Regions from separate parts of the Homo sapiens genome. Here region 1 is linked to region 2. Evidence: fine-mapped expression QTL. A gene starts in region 2. The other region holds a variant in brackets. All regions are shown on one strand. Distances are between the middles of the regions.

Region 1 (8,340 bases), 220 kb before region 2:
GGCTCAAGCAATCCTGTCTGAGCCTCCCAAGTGGCTAGGACTACAAGTGTGTGCCATCATGCCAGGCTAATTTTTAAAATTTTCTTGTAGAGATGACTCTTGCTATATTGCCCAGGCTGGTCTCAAACTCGTGGCCTCAATCAATCCCCTGGCCTTGGTTCCCAGTGTTGAGATTACAGGCATAAGCCACTGTGCCCAGCCTCTCCTTGGGTTTTATACTTATTTCATAGTTTTGATCATACTGTATCTACAGGTCTGTTCCTAACACTTTTTATTCACGTTATATCCTAAGCATTTTCCATGTCATTAAAATGTCCTCATTTTAAAATGACTTCATATTATCTTGCATGTCTTTAGCGTAACTACTGTCATTTAAAAAATAAAGCAACATAGGGATTTTCACTGGCTACAAGTTCTAAGAATTGTGGTATGTCTGAGAAGTCAAAAAGGAACCGGCAGGGCAGGGGAGACAGGTGAAGTCCCAAGTTCTTCCTCCGGTTTTGGGTTTTATCCTGAGTCAACTGTGGTACATCTGGAAGGTGAGTTGATGATGTGGAGTGACCAGGGCTGACGAGGAAGAGTTAAAGCTGGAAGGAATGCTCAACCCAGAGAAGAGCAGAGCCATGGAGTCACGTTTCCACACTTGAAGTATGACTGACTGACTCTGTGGCATCCCGGTTGGCAGCACTAAGGCCGGTAAGTGGGAATTTCAAAGCCACAATTTGGACTCCTCTGCAAACAAGTTTGAGAGCTGTTCCCTAAAGCTACCTGATGCCCTGTGAGGCAGGCAGTGCCTGGTCCCTGGAGGTGTTCAAGTAGGGCAGGTGGCTTCAAGGATACTAGAGGATAGGAAATCCCTGCAGTCTGGTTTATGGTCTGGGTCCTGTGTGAGCACTGGAATAGCCTACATCAAATCTTAAGTCTCTCAGAGTCGCATAAAACAACCGAATTCTTTAATTCAAAGCCACGTTTTCAATTCTGAGCAGCCCAGAGACCTGCCATCGCTTTCTCGCGCCGAGTCACGTGGTCTGGCAAGGCGCGCGGTTTCCTCCCTAGCCGCCCCCAGCTGCCCTGAACCTTCAAAGTCACATTTCAGTCACTCCCCAGTCTGACCAACAACGCTCACAATGAGGGCGCTGCCAGCACAGGCGACGGCCTGCGCTCCAGTCTTACGAGGAACCCCAAATTCAAGACCCCTGTGACCCAGGCCTGTGTGCCCCGACAGGCTAAACCTCCGCCCAGGGGCTTCCCGATGTCGGCTGCAGCGGGTCTGGGTTTTCGGCCTGCAGAGCTCGCGTCTGACGGCTGAGGAACAAAACACCCTCCCTCTAGCGGCTCAAGCGCACACACCCTCTTGCCTTCCGCAGCCACCGAGCGAGTCACGGGAGACACTCTGGAGCCATTTTGCGGGGCTGGAATTCCTTCGCCCGGCGGAGCTCGGCGCGCACCCGTCAGCTGTGCCGAGGACCCTGCGCCCGGGGGGCCCCGCGGCCACGTGACCCCCATCTGGCTCTCGGCCTGGACTGAGGGGGCTGAGCTCATCGCGTTGCTATTCGAGGGGCAGAGACTGCCTGGCCTTCCTCAAATCCTGAGCTCCCGGCTCTCCTCCCTCCCCCACCTACTTGACATCTCAGGCTTTTTGTGGAAGGGGCAGGGCGATTGAGAGGTCGGTGACCTTTGTCCCAATGGCGCTGGCTCTTTTCCTTTTTGGCTACCCTAATGGAATGAGGATATAATCAGTCATATCTTAACATTCATTGAGCCCCGGCTCAGGCTGGGAGGCACTGCCTTTCTCCTAGTGAATTTTAAATCAGTATTTGTGGGATTTAAGCTCCAGCGGATAAACCTAGAGCCACTGGCCATGAAGGGTGTGGCAGTGGGGTGAAAAACGGGACTCCCGCCTCCACTCCCTGGCTTTCCTCATTCCAGCCACTATAGAGGGGAAAATACGTAGACCACAGAGCAACGGCCACACCCTCTTTCCTCTCCTCCAACCCCAGAATTCCACTTCAGTCTCAGAGCTTTCAGCTAGGTGGGGTTTATCCCCAAACATGCCACAACCCCTCTAGTTATATGGGAGCGGTAACTGTGAACCACCATCGCTGGCTTGATCCTCCCTTTTCCGTGGATTGGTGCTCCTGAGTATGTTTACCGGTTTCAGTACATAACACAGCCAGATAGAGGGCCGCGGACTTCAGCGGCGAGAAGCTACAACAAAAATAGGGTGAACAAAAACGAAGGTGCCCAGGAGCCTGAATTGCATTTCTTTCTTACCTTTGGTCATAGAAAGGAGCACTTAGGTGTTTGGCTGGAACGCAAAGTGAGACCAGAGCTTACATTCTTAGCAGCCTGGGTTTGTCTCGAGAGGCCATGCTTCTCTCCTCCCTGACATTTTGCTCTCAGAAGCACCAGTTAGCATCAGAGGAATGTTGTTTCCTTCTCTGAAACAGCCATCAAGTACCAGCGATTTCTTGGCTCCGGCAAGTTAAGTGCTCTGACCCCTCCCTTATCTAACTCACCCCGCACACCATCCACATGGCAGGGGACGCAGCCAGAAATGGAGCGGACTGCATCTTTTCCTTGCCCACTCTTTTTATCACCATGACAGAGCCACTGGACACCAGGAAATAAATACTGAACCACCACACTAAAACGTTTACTCCACTTTGGGCAGAAGGAGCCTATTTTGCATATTAAGTGCCTCCTATAAAGCAGTCAAGTGAGGGAAAGAGGAGTTCTCGCTCCTCCGTGAATGCTGCACGGGAGCCTCCAGTCGGGAACAGCTGAACAGGTAGCTCTGAAAGAGGACCTTGGTCATAAACGCATAGATAAGATTATCCCGAGGTTCTCGCCCACATGCTTCCTTACCACAGGTGGGAGGGCTGCTGTTAGGCTGTCTTCCTTGCTGAGCATTGACAAGCAATGAAATAGTTGAGGCGTAGCAGCAAGAAAGGAGGAAGAAAAAGGGCCTGGTTTTTTGGTCTTTAAGAACAGACCACTAGTGGTGTATTTTGGGCTGGATATTTGCTGAGCCGACCGTTGACGTGCTGAGCTGACGGTTGACGTGCTGAGCTGAGGGTTGACGTCTCTGGTCATTACACAGATTTAAATAACCAGCAAAAGTGGGGTGGAAAGGTTTTTCCAATTGTTTTCAAGGAAATGTATTTTGAGGATATATTGAATCTGACATAACTTTCAACTCACTTTCAAACCAATCTACTGAGCTGAAGAAAGAGATCAGAAATGAAATGAAATTCTGATATACACTTAATCGACTTAAAAAAAATTGACAGGAAAAATAAAATTTCAGATGTTTTTTATTCAAAGGTTCTCAAAAGAAATAAAACAGAAAAGCTAACAATCTGATCAAATGTACAGTTCAAAAATGTCTTTTGGCGTTTAACAACAAGTCCTAGGAAAGAAAACTACAGAGTTATCTTGAACCGGACAAATAAGTTACCACTGGCAAGTCTGTGGCACTAGTAAAACAAAAATAAAAAATTAACTCTCTTGATCATATAGATATCTCTATGAAAATCTTTTTTTTTCAATCTGTACAAAAGGTCTTTCTTCATAAATTAATTTTTTTATAATTTAATGGCTGTCTACTATGTGATGTTTAACTGATTTTTTTTTTTTTATGTACAGAGGTTATGTTTCCCAAATCTTACCCAGACGAGTATGGCACTTAGTTCAGACATTTCTAGCAGCAGATTTCCCCTCCCCTCTAACCGAGCTATCAAATTTCTGTCTTAACTAATGCAAAAATATCAAGTAGTGAGAGACCCAGGTTTATAACTGTACTAGGTACACAGAGGGTGCTGCGTTCAGTCTGGACTTTCACAAAGCAGTAATATTCCAGGGAGCATAGAACCAATAATACCACAACTTTAAAAAAATGAAACAAAAACAAAAACAAAAACACATTTCTCTTATGACTATGTAATTTTCACTAGAATCTACACTTCTCAGAGCAGCAAGGACTTTTGAAACTATGAAATGTCACTGACATCTATCATCAAATACAAGCATAAAATTTAAGAACTAAAAAATACTTGAAAGAAATAACTGCTTAGCCCTAGCTCCTGAGCTAGGAGGATTTGGTCTGTGGAAACAGGGAGGGCCAGCAACCTGTCCCAGCACAAAAGAAAATAGACTCTGAGGTAGATAACTGATCATACACAGCTGACCAGACAAGTACACAGTTTTGGAAGACAACTTAATTTACCATTGCTTTTAAAACATATGCAATTGCCTTAATAAAAGAGCTTTAATAACAGTGAATTATCTTATATGTACTAAAGTAGAAATAACTGTGTATTTATGAATCAGGAATTTCATAGTTTCAAAATTGGTTTTCTTTACACTTGAACACTTGTAGTGATGATGTAAAGTGTGGCACTGCTTGGATCCAAATCTTCCTTCATGCTTTTTTGTTTGTGTGTGTCCATACATCAATTAAAATTATAAAACCTAAATGCAAAGGTACAAAAAAGGCACATTCTCCTAACCGCAAACTGGTCCGGCAAAAATAAAGAGCACAGAAGATGTGATGCTGAGACAAGTTGGAGCTACTGGTTACTGGCTCTTCGGTCTTTGGTGAAGTTACCTTTAAAAGTGCCAAGTCATTTTTATTTTTCAAATTTACCTAATAGAGAGAGAGAGAGAGAGCTAGTAGCCAATCGTTTTGCTTCTATTCGTTATCTCAGCTTATGTTTGAAGATAAATCCTTACTTTTAGCTTTTGCCACTTTGTTGCAATAGCAACATTTTTCGGTTTGCCAGATTTCAGGCATAATTCTCATTCTAAAGCACTATCATTAGTATAAAGGAAGGACAAAACATTCAGTGACTCCCCTCCCCCACCCCCATCCCCAACCCCAACACTACCTACACTAAATCTAGTACATCAAGTTAG[C/CT]TTTTTTTTTTTCCTGAAAAAAGGCAAAAAAGACTTTACATTGCATCATACAGCAGATATCCTAAATCAGTCAAACTATCAGAGGAAACTGTTGGCGTACAGCCTTACAAACAATTTACCCTAATAAAAGTTCCCCAGTCAGAAAATGTGTTTCACACAAAACATTTTTCCCTTCTTGCATTTCACTACCTTACACATTATGTGAAAAATCATTAAAAACACCTACTACATATTTAAAAAAGCCAAAATTTCAGCAACTTTTATTGACTACCTTTTAAAAGCCCTATGCTGCTGTTTTACAAGGCATAATAGACCAGCTCATTTGGTCAAAGCATTCTACATCATTAGTTTGAACTAACTTTTACTGAAACAGCTACAGCATCAAAAGAGTTAAGGCAAATTGGAATTCATAGAAAAGGATAAGACACTTCACACTACGTTGAAAGAAAGACAGAAAGCTAAGAAAAGAGACACTGACGGCAACACTGAATTACAGCAACACTCGCACTGCAAGCACAGAACACCATGGGTGAAGTCGGACTATTTAAACTTCAGAAAGCCCATTTCATACAGCTGGAAAAAAAAAACACAAATTAAACACAAAATGAACAAAACCACAAAAATCCGGTCATGCACTTGGATAAGTCTTCATGGTCTTTGTGCATACCCAGAAAATTGAAGTTTTCTTTTCTTTTTTTTTTTCTTTTTCTTTTTTTGCATCATAACATTTGATAAAAATCTTTTGTTTTTGTTTTTTGTTTTTTTTTTTTTACTAAAATAAACCTGTTCGGGGGAACAGCTACTAGATGAATTTAAGGGTTTTATGCACCTTATAGAACTTATAGCAAAAATAGTTTTAGTTGATTTCATTATAAATAACGTTTTCAAGAACCTGTGCAAAACTGTCAATAATTTCCTAAAGCACAATTGATCAGAAAAATCCATGATTGTTCAGCCTTCACACCCTTCTTCATGTAAGAACACCTTTCTGTACATCTGGAAGAGAAAAATAAAAGACAAATGCTTTTGTAGATTTGGTGTGAAACACTACAGAGCTTTGTAATCTGTTTCTTGTTTTAAAGAGATATGTGTTTGAAAAAGGTTATGCTCATCACTGATGGTAGACTGATAAATGCAGACTCTGGAACTGATGGTTACTTTCAATGCCTGTCACATCCAGGACTTGCAAAATACTTTCTTTTCTAATTTAGAGCCAAATTCATTTGGGTCTCTAAAGAGTGACTTTATGAAATCAAAAATACATGTTATCACCAGGGCAATCCAGAAACCAAGGTATTCTATATCACCAGGGCAATGCAGAAACCAGGGTATTCTAAGTTCTACACAGCTATTTTATTACAGTCTGCATGGTAAAGTGAAAAGTTTTGAAATTTGTGGTTCAAGTGAGAGTTGGGAATATAATCTTTCAATCTAAGGATATTGACATTTATCTAAATTCATAATCAAGATGTTGCTAAACTTGTAATGCTAGATTGAGCAACATCTTATGCTATAGGTCCTCCAGTTTCTGAGTATTAAAGTAATATGATATAGGATACTTGTATTATAGAACAATTTTGGTTCTTGGTGTTCTCTGATGTTACAGATTTTTATTTTTTTCTTTTTAGTGGGGAGAGTATACATTTGGCTTCAGTATAAAGCATTCTCTTTAGACAAAATGATTAATCTTAAATTCATAAAATCACTGATTTTAATATTTCAACAAGACTAGATGCCTTGGCCACGATTAAAGCAGTATGATAAAATCCGAGTTATCCCAATCACCATTCTGATTTTAAAAAAAGCCCTATAGATTGTGCTTGATTTGAGCCCCCCAGTTATGAAGACCTTTCCCTCATACCTCACAGTTACTTATTAGGTTGAAAGGTATATGGAGAATGGTCATTAGACGTCTCGACAGCCACCTGCTGTTGACCACTTGCCTCCTACAACAAACAAAGCAGAATGGATGAGACATGTTAGTGAAAAAACCTCAGCTCTGCTACTTAGGCCTGACTGAATCCAACAGTGCCTTAAAAACAGTTACTCTTTAAAGTAAATTTCTTCACGTCATGTAGAGCTTTCAAGGTTAATCATTTCCCTAAGCAGCTGGCATGTCTAACAGACCCAAAGCACCTCCCATCCAAATGTTTATGACTTTCCTATTCTTATCAAGCTACAGCATATCAAACAAATCTCTTACCCTCTTATCCCCTGGGGACAGATGTGATTTGGAATTCAGTATTTTCAGATTTTATAATCTGAAATGTGGTATGCATATGCTGTATATCATTTAATGCCTCCAGTAGGGTCTAGGGCTGCACCTCATAAGCAAACATATTAATAGTTCTACACTGGAAGCCATGAAGCAGCACAGTTAAGTGGGATCAAGATTTTGTCTCATCTCAATTCAGGTTGAGTTTTGCCATAGGTCAGGTTTTATGCTAAAGTAGTTACAAAGATAATTTTTATTTTCAGATTTCTTTTTGGGTTTCAGATTGCAGGTAAGGAATTGTAGGCTCTGGTAACTGTGGTTGTCAGTAATTGCACAAACAGAAGTAAAATACTACTACCACCACCACCACCACCACCACCACCACCAACACCTACTACTACTACTACTGCTACTACTATCACCACCACCACCACCACCTCCACCAACAGGCCAGAGTCCTATGATCCTTTCCTGGAATTGGAACCTTTGGGATCTGCCTAGTGGGCAAGATCAACTGGATTGATACATTTCCTTGAAATTTTAAGGATACTTTGCAGGAAAATGCCACGTTTTCTCTCTAACCATAATTCAAATGCTAGACTTCTTTCTTTCATATCAGTATCTTCCATAACAAGAACAGTTATCTAGCCATACTAACAGCCTCTGTAAAAACAGCTATAGCTTCTTCTTCATCCCTGTAGCAGTTTCAAAACAGCTTTCTCTTTTCCACTAAGTATCTTAACTACAACTGATTTCTTTTCGTCATTATTAATTATCATTGATACGATCTTTAGTACTGGGACTGCAAACTCCAGATTTATCTTATTATGTCTGTAGTATCATTTTATGAGAGACAAGACAGAACGTCCGAGGGGTATGAAAGGCACTATAGGCTTAGAAAATATTTCTGGGAGTCTTAAGAGGTGTGGCCTGGATGTTGTTACCCTAATTTGTCATGATCATAGCTCACTGTAGTTGCAAACTCCAGGGCTCAAGGGTTCTTCCTGCCTCATACTCCTGAGTAGCTGGGACTACAGGTCCATGTCACCATGTCTGGCCAATTTTCAAACAATTTTATTTTTTGTAGAGATGGGATCTCACTATGTTGCCCAGGCTGGTCTCTAACTCCTGACCATAAGCAATCCTCCCTCCTCAGCCTTCCAAAGTGTTGGACTTACAGGCATGACCCACCACATCTGGCTAAACGC
Region 2 (8,340 bases):
TTAATGCAGCCACTGGTTGAAAATGTGTACATACAAATCTTTAAGTTAAAATATGTTAGATTATCAACATCTTTTTTCTGTGTAGCTAAAAGATGGATATTAAATTTAATATAATACAGCATAGGTCATTTTAAAATTGAGAAAATTATTTAGGACAATATGTGGTTATGTTTATAAAGCTACATCAAGCTACATTTCAGAATGAATGTGTCAGCTGATAAAAAGAACCTGCTGTGATAAGACCATCCTCACTGAGAAATAAAAAAAAAAAACAAAAAACCAACAGCATGTGAAATCAGGTTACTTGAAATTTATGTAACTCTACACCAAGGTATTATGAATATTATACAATCTCATTCATTTCCACTCATGTCCTGCTCTTCCATAGTACACTCAAGTTTATTTTACATTTCATGGAGACATATTACTTTTTCTAATGATTTTTTTTCTTTCTGTCAAAGTACAAAGCATACCAATATGGTCATTTGCTCCAATATAGCCCAACGGATGGTATTTTTTTATTAATAAAATGTGGAAGTAACTAGTATGTTTTTATGGGGAAAATTACAAAATAAGTTTACCAAAATAGACTGGATCACTAAAACAAGAAGAATGGTTTGGCATATATAACTTTTAAAAGTATGGTAACAAAACAAACTGTTAAGTTCCATTTTACCTGGTATTATCTGTTCCTTCTGATTAAAAGAATTAGATTTGAGAAAATCACATCTATCTCTTGAGTACAAATTAGCTATCACTTTTTAGATGACCATGCCATTCTTCAGTTTTTGATATAGCTTCCAAACAGAAGTTTCAAAATGACTCTGCCTAGCAAACACATCACTGTACTTTAAACAGAGTGATGTTTTCTATCCCATATTTTCGGAAGGTTAAAGCACACACAGAGGCAAGAATCATGACAGACAGCAGATCCTAAGAGAGTTTATTAACTCTTTAGGTAGATTAGGCAACACTTGTTTTTAAACTAACTACAAATCAAAGTCTTTTTTTTTTTAAATGATTCAACATTACTACCATGCTACCAACAGATACATAAGGGAGAGAAAAAAAAAAGGGCTGCCTGTTCCGAACTCTGCTTACCTAAAATTTGCATCTAGTCACGTGCCATTTTTAGAAGATGTCCCCTTCTGAGATAATCAAGATACTTGTACAACAGGGAATTTAGACTTAATTACCAAACTTTAATACCATGTTATATAGGTCAAGTGAGTATGTATACCTTTCTCCAGAAACAAAGGAATTCCGAATAATAGGATTTCAGATTTAATTGTAGAATTAGCAAAATGTTTTGAGAATGTCATTTACCGCAACACAAATCAATATTAAATGCTTTATGCAGGAAGCACACTTTCAGAAAATGGGCCGTAAAGCTTTCTGGGATCCGACCCTAATTACTAGAGCAGGCTCTTGCCGTTTGTCTCTCTCTTCAATTATTTACAGGGCAAAAAAGCCAAATGGCATTGCATTAGCTACATTAAATGGTATGGACTTGGTTTCTAACTTACTAATGGTATATAAAAATTACTAAGGTAAATGTGCCTGTAGAAACATGGCTTTTTTTCTTCCTCACCTGAGTGGGTGTATTTATTATTCATATTGTTAAGTGTTGAATAAGCTGTCCTTTAGGCACCCAATGCTGCATAATTTAAACAAGTGCATTAAATATATAAGATATCTAAAAGGTAGTGCATTGATTATGCCACAAAATTTCTTTGAACAGCTACCATGTAGCTCACAGAAAACTAGCATCTCCTGCAAGTTCCTAAAACAAATACTGTGAGAACTACACAGAGATGAATAAGGGGTATCCTTGCTGCTACCATCTTGCTGCTTTCTGGTGACCCAAAGTAAAGTGGGAATTGGGGGAAGTGAAAATGAGGCCCGGGATTGCTAGGACATTTCTGGTCTCGAAACTGACAAGTGTCCTTTTTACGTAGACAAATACAGGGCTATGTCGTAAGTACATGAAAACGTGGACCACACACATTCTAAGAAAGAAAAGGCTGAATCAGAGATTCTTTGTACCAGGCCGGAAATGCCCAACTACCAGCAAGCAGAGCATGATTACAACCTCCCAAAGAAAGTTCGGACACTGCATCCATACCTGATTCTTTTGTGATCTAGAAGGGCACCCAGAGTTGTGATAGATGTTAATGGCTGAAGAAGGCTGCTGCGTCCAACTTCCACCCTCCCAAATTCTGGCGGCTGCTTCCAAAGCAGTGAAATTTCCAGTCTTCATGGCCCAAATAATTTTTTTAAATGAGTTCGGGAGGCATCAAATTCTTATTGTAAAAATAAGATAGGCCCACTAACAAAGTACCCAGGGTCCCTAGAAAGCCAGGCGCAATTTGTATGGCTACATGTCATCAACTGTTGTTACCCAAGAGTGTGCCGAGGTCACTTTTTAAAAAGCAACATTGGAAATCGATCTGTGGCAAACATATAAGCTAGTTTTGTTTTTGTTTCTTTTTTAACCAAATACGAAGTCACTTCTTTCTCTGCACTGAAATCTGCCCATTGTCCCTCCTTTGCAAAACCTCTAGAGATTAGAAGGGACATCAATGAACGCGAGTGAACTTTGGCCACTTTTCTACCCAAAACACCAGCGTAAAAGTAGAAATCAGTAACCAGGTGAAGTGCCACACCGCACAAAGATCAGAGGCGAGGGGCGGGCGCTCAGGGCCGGAGGCGGGGAGGAAAATATCCCGGCCCCGCCGCCCCTCCAGCCCCAGTCATCGCGTGCGCGGGAGGTGGAGGGGCGTCCCTGGGGGGCGGGAGGCTCCGCGCCACGGCGAGGGGAGCGAAGAGTTACAGCTTACAGGGCGAGGCCCTTGGAGAAGGGGTCGAAAAGCCGGGCCACCAGCGGATCCAGACGCGCACACCAGGCGACGGCCGCCGGCCAGCCAGGGCTCGGCGAGGGGCGCCGCTCGACCCCACGACCCTCCCCGCTGGCCGGGCCAGGAAGGGGCTGGTGGCTCTTTCCTGTCTAGTCTCTCCCCCCGCGGCTTTCTGTAACCCGATCCCCGCACTCCGCTCCCAGGGAAGCCGCCGCCCCGCGCGCCGCCCGGCTCTGCCCAGGCCAGCGCTATAGTTAGCAACCTTCCAGCAACTCCGCCCGGCGGTGGCGGGGGTTCGCCGCGCGCCCCCCTCCCCAGGCCTGACCCTGCGCGCGTCCCCGGGCCCCCTCCTCCGGCCGTCACCTCTCCCCGGCGCCCCTTTACCTTGGCTTGCAGATACTGGGGGTAATAGTAGGTGGCGTACTGAGGGTACATCTGCTGTTTCCACACTTTGCCCATGAAGCTGGAAGGGAGCCTGCCGTGCAGGGTCGCGGACACTTTGGGGTTTCCAAGTCTCGGGCTCTCCTGCCTCTCCCTTTCCGGCGGCGGCGGCAGCGGCGGCGGCGGCGGCGGCTGCTGCTGCTGCCGCTGCTCCACCTCCCAGCCGGGACCAGACGTCCTCCTCCTCCTCCTCCTCTTCCTCCTCCTCCTCCTCCTCCTCCTCCTCTTCCTCCTCCTCCTCCTCCTCCCAGGCAGAAAGAAAGACACTGCAGAGCGCAGAGGGCACCCCGGACAGGGCGCTCCCAAGGAGTTTCCTCCCGGAGCCCGACTGCTCCGGGGCTGCCAAGGGCTGGCGCGCTGGCCGCGGTCCGCTCGGGCGAGCCGGCTGCGCGGGGCTGAGAGGTGATCAATACAAGTGGAAAGTGCGGCAGCGGCGGCTGCGCTTGGTGCCAGGCGGCATCTGGGGTGGGTGCGCCCGATGTGGAGAGAGGAGAGGGGCTGGCGTTCCGAGGCCGTGGGGGAAGGGCGGGCGGGGGCGGGGCCTGGGCGCCGCCGAGCCCGGGACCCGCTGGAGGTGAGGGCTGAGTTTTAACCACTCCTCACCTCCCAGGCTCGCGGTTGGACGGGCGGAAGCCCTGTGAGTCCAGATCGCTTTGTGTCGGGGGTGGGGAAATGGGAGTGGGAGTGGGGGTGGAGGGGGAATGCGGGGGGACCCAGCTTAAGAACTGCAGGGCGGGCACCTCTTTTGCTTTCCCGAGTTTTTATCTTCGTAAGGGGGAGGGGAAATAAGGGAAAAGAGGAAATCTGATTAATCGTTCACTTCCCACCGCCCAGTAATTTTTTTTCACAAGGGAAGGAAAATGATTTAATGCCCAACAAAGCTGGAGTCTGGACACCTGGGTTCTGTTCCTCCCACCCACCCCCGACCCGGGGCCACAAGACTAATCTAGGTGACCTTGGGAGGGTTAGCGTCCTTCGGTTTGGTTTTCCCAGATGTGAGACGTGAAATCATGCCCCTTGCACAAGGGGAGGCAAAGCACATACATACATACACACACACACACACACACACACACACCCCTCACAACATATAGACGGATCCTTCTAAGAGGGGGATGCCGCAAAGAGGCAGAATGTTATTAGAGGACACAATATAGACATCAGCTTTTCTCTGCCTCTTTCTAATGCTGCCAGACAGTCTGTCAACTCCCACTCAGGAGCAAGGAAACTCCCTGAGTTTGGAATATTTTAAGGCCATTTTGAAAGTCACGCTGGCATATTGTTGCAGTGTGCTTCAGTGACATATAAAATCAATCTCTCTTTCTGCCTCTCTCCATCTCCTAATTGTCACAGCTCTAGACAGCCTCAGACCAGCAGTGGTTCAGTTCACTACATAACTAGATATAATTTAATGGAATTAATTGGTCCCCGAAGCTGCCTGCAGAAGACTTTTATATTCCAGCTCAAAAAGAGAGCTAATACCAAAATGTACATACGGATAGCATAGGTAAGCAAGCATCCTCAAATTAGGGTTCCGGCACATCTAATAAAATGTAATAAAAAACTGTGTTTGTTATTAAATAGACCTTGTTTACTTTGTCATTTTGGTTTTTGAAGAGTCTTTTGTTAATAGCACAAGGTAAATTAAACTCAACTGGAATGCATTATTTTGTTAAACAGTTATTATTTTTATATGATAACATTTTAAAATAGGTTTAGTAAGATACTTTAAAACAATGACAAAATAAGGACCTGAAACCCTTATAATCGTTCTATGGTTTAGACAAATTTCTAGATCTTACATGTTTGACAAAAACAAAATAAATATAAGTATAGGTGAGAACATTTTGGCTCTGCCAGGAGGCAAATCATGTCCCTCTCATTTACCTATGTAAAAGCCTATAAGGAAGCTAATATTTACTATGTCTGCTATATTGTAGGCACTGTTGAGGTGCATGCAGACCTGAAAAGTGGAATGGGTCACTGTCAGACTAGGGGAGCCTAAAATATTTCCCATATTGTTTCAATGTGGGGCCTTTTAATGTTTTTAAACAGGGAACTGACATGAACTAAATTGTGCTTTAGGAAGACTAGGAATGATGGTTTGGAAGAGTGACAGAAGGAAGAGAAGTAAATCGAGAACAATCGCAGAAGTTCTAGGTTTGAGGTAATAAGGGAAACTACCAAACTTAGACTGTTCTACTTACTGTTTTTTCTGGATGATGGAAATTCAGCCTGTTTTAGAGAGCCCAAAAGCAGACCTACACTTGTATAGACACTTGATTTATGACTGAGTTGGTATTATAGCGCAGTGGAGAAAGAATGAACTTTTCAATAAATGATTCTGGGTCAACTGGCAATCATATGGAAAAAATGAAATGGGAGCCCTGCCTCACACATACCAAGGGAGGAGGGTGGAAAATTGAGGTGAATCATGACCTGGATGTGAAAAACAAAAGTATAAAGCTGTTAGAAGACAATATAGAAGAATACCTTTTTGACCCTGAAATAGGAAAGATTGGTTAAATAAGGGGAACAACAGTGTAAGATTGACAGATTTGACTGTTAACATTAAGAACACTGGTTCATTGAAGGATTTTATAAAAAGCGATAAAAGCCACTAAATACCTGTAATACATATAACACAAAAGGTTAGTATACAGAATGTATAAATAATCAATAAAAAAAGAGAACTTGTTAGAATATGAACAAAAGAATGAATGTGTATTTCACAGAAGCACAAATATTCAGAAAACATATAAAAAGATGCTCAAGTTCATTAGTAATAAGAGAAATGCAAATTAAAATAATACTACTATACCATTTCATATTCACCGGATTTGCAAAAATTAAGAACTCTAAAAATATTAAGAGTAGGTAAAAATGTGGAAGGGGGGAAATCTGAAAACACTGCTTCCTGGAGGAAGTATAAATTGGTCTAACCACCACTTTAGAAAACAATTTGGCATTCCTGAATTTCATTTGCATGTTTCCTACAACACAGTAACAGGTACGTACCTTAAATAAATTATTTTATATGTGCACCAGGAGAAATATACAGGAATGTTCATAATATGCAGAAAATAACTCAAATGTCTACCAACTGTAGAGTGGATTAAAAAGGTTTTAGTATATGCACACATTGGAGTCGTTGCAGAAACAGAAATGAATAAGCTGCAGTTAAAAGCATCAACATGGATCATTTCAAAACTGATGTTGAATGAAAAAGGCAAGTCAACAGAATGCATAAAGCATGATTCCATTTGTATGAAGTTCAAAAACAGAAAAAATAACTAAACAGTATGTTATGTAAGAATAGGTGCAAGAGTAGTTTTTAAAAACTTTTATAAGGAAAATCAAAAGTAAAATAACATAAAATTCAAAACAGTATCTCTTAGGAAGAAGAAGGATGAAGTATTTAAGGAGGGGCCGAAGGAGACCTCTAGAAATAGTAATGTTGGATGTTTTGCTCTGGGTTATTGATAACATGAGACTACATTTCAATACTTTTGTTTTAATGTTCATAAGTTCTTTTGTATTTTTGCTGTATTTCATGTGAAAACATTTTAAAACAAAATCAGCTTTTAATTTTAAGCATGATCATTTTCAAACAAATACAAAAGCAGAGGAACCCTCTGTTCCTAACATCCAGCTTCAACATTCATCAACATTTTGTCATTCTTTTTTCTTCCCTCTTCTCTCTTTCTCTGTCTCACACACACACAAACACACACACACACTTACTTTTATTTTTCTAGAGTATTTCAAAGCAAATCCCAAGCATCATATTTCACCAGTAACTATTCTACTACCTTCCTCTAACAAATAACTTTTTAAAACATAATACCATTGTCACACCCAAAAAATTTAACAATAATTTGTTAATGTGAGCTAATACCCAATTCTTGTTCATTTTCCACTGTTGTCTAAAAATCGTTTTTTGTAGTTTGTCTATTTAAATCAGGTTAAAACAATGTCCACATATTAAATTTGGTTGATATGTCTCTTAAGACTCTCTTAATAAAAAAGTTTGTCCCCATTCATTTTTAAATTTGATATTTACTTGTTAAAGGATTTGGGTCATTTGTCCTGCAGAATTTCCCGCATGGCTGATTGCAACCTCATGGTGTCATTTGCAATGATGGTTAGTTCTAGAGGTTTGATTAGATGCAGATTCACATTTTTTTGACAAAGAATAGTTCCTAGATGGTACTGAACACACATAGGGAATGTGATGTGATGTGTATCCCATCAGAAAACCATAATGTCTGGTTGTCTCATTTTTAGGGATGTTAAGTTGATCAGAAGTTCAGGCATTATCAGTCTGACTTGTTCATTATAAAGTTCCCCATCAACCATTCACAGGATGTTTTTCTACATTCATGAGTTTTACCTCAATCCATTTTTTTTTAAATTAGGAGTTACAAATTGTGGTTTTTCTCCTTTTATAATTTCTTCTGCACTTACTAGTTAGAAATTGTCTACGGAGAAGAACTTTCTGTCTTCAACTCTTTGGTTAACTTAAAATACAGGTAGCAAAGGAAAGGTAGGATAAATTTCTCCTATTTATCAATTTTTAGGAGAATGAGTTGGTGCCCTAGGAAACTCCAAAGCTAACTAGTTTTAAGTAAGATTCTGGATTTGTGGATTTTAATGTACTGTATTTGAATTGCTTCAACCCATTGCAGTCATTATTCTTGTTGGTGCTCAAATTGTCCCATTTTTGGGCAATAGGAGCCCCTTCAAATTGCCTCATGTGAAAAAAAAAAAAACAGACTCTAATAGTCTTGACAGTTTTTTTTTTTTTCTTTTGGCTTTTTAGCATGATAAGATTGTCCCAGGTTCTTATACGGTTCATACCCAGATCTGAGTCAGCTATCAGCCATTTCTCTTTAAAAAAAAAAAAAAGTCAGCTTGCCTTAAAAATTTTAAATAATGACAAATTTTCTAAAAATATGTACTACATGTTTAGCACTTTTGTGGGAAGGAGCTCATGAAGGAATCTTAATAAAACTTTGTGCCAAGATGACCTAGGAAAGCA

Alleles and levels. Positions count from the first base shown, and alleles are read on the strand shown. Sizes are in standard deviations (SD) of each study's normalised expression.
With allele C in place of CT in region 1, the expression in monocytes after LPS of the gene that starts at base 3,761 in region 2 is lower (moderate effect, 0.56 SD a copy in Fairfax 2014).

What was found. PIP is the estimated chance that this variant, and not a neighbour inherited with it, causes the effect.
Region 1: its variant is fine-mapped to the expression of RBMS1 in monocytes after LPS (Fairfax 2014, PIP 0.95). The same link has a PIP of 0.9 or more in B cells.

What each region holds. Positions count from the first base shown.
Region 1 is chr2:160,268,852-160,277,191 of GRCh38, forward strand. It overlaps RBMS1 (RNA binding motif single stranded interacting protein 1), which reads right to left. Exons shown (of 14, transcript NM_016836.4): 13 at 6,779-6,863; 14 at 3,300-5,913. The coding sequence ends at 6,786. LINC02478 (long intergenic non-protein coding RNA 2478) reads right to left here and starts at 3,044. Exons shown (of 2, transcript NR_103775.1): 1 at 2,869-3,044. RefSeq lists an enhancer at 1,252-1,861. The variant C/CT (reference allele first, on the strand shown) is at 4,918.
Region 2 is chr2:160,490,047-160,498,386 of GRCh38, forward strand. It overlaps RBMS1 (RNA binding motif single stranded interacting protein 1), which reads right to left and starts at 3,761. Exons shown (of 14, transcript NM_016836.4): 1 at 3,243-3,761. The coding sequence starts at 3,317. RefSeq lists an enhancer at 3,302-3,822 and a silencer at 4,009-4,188.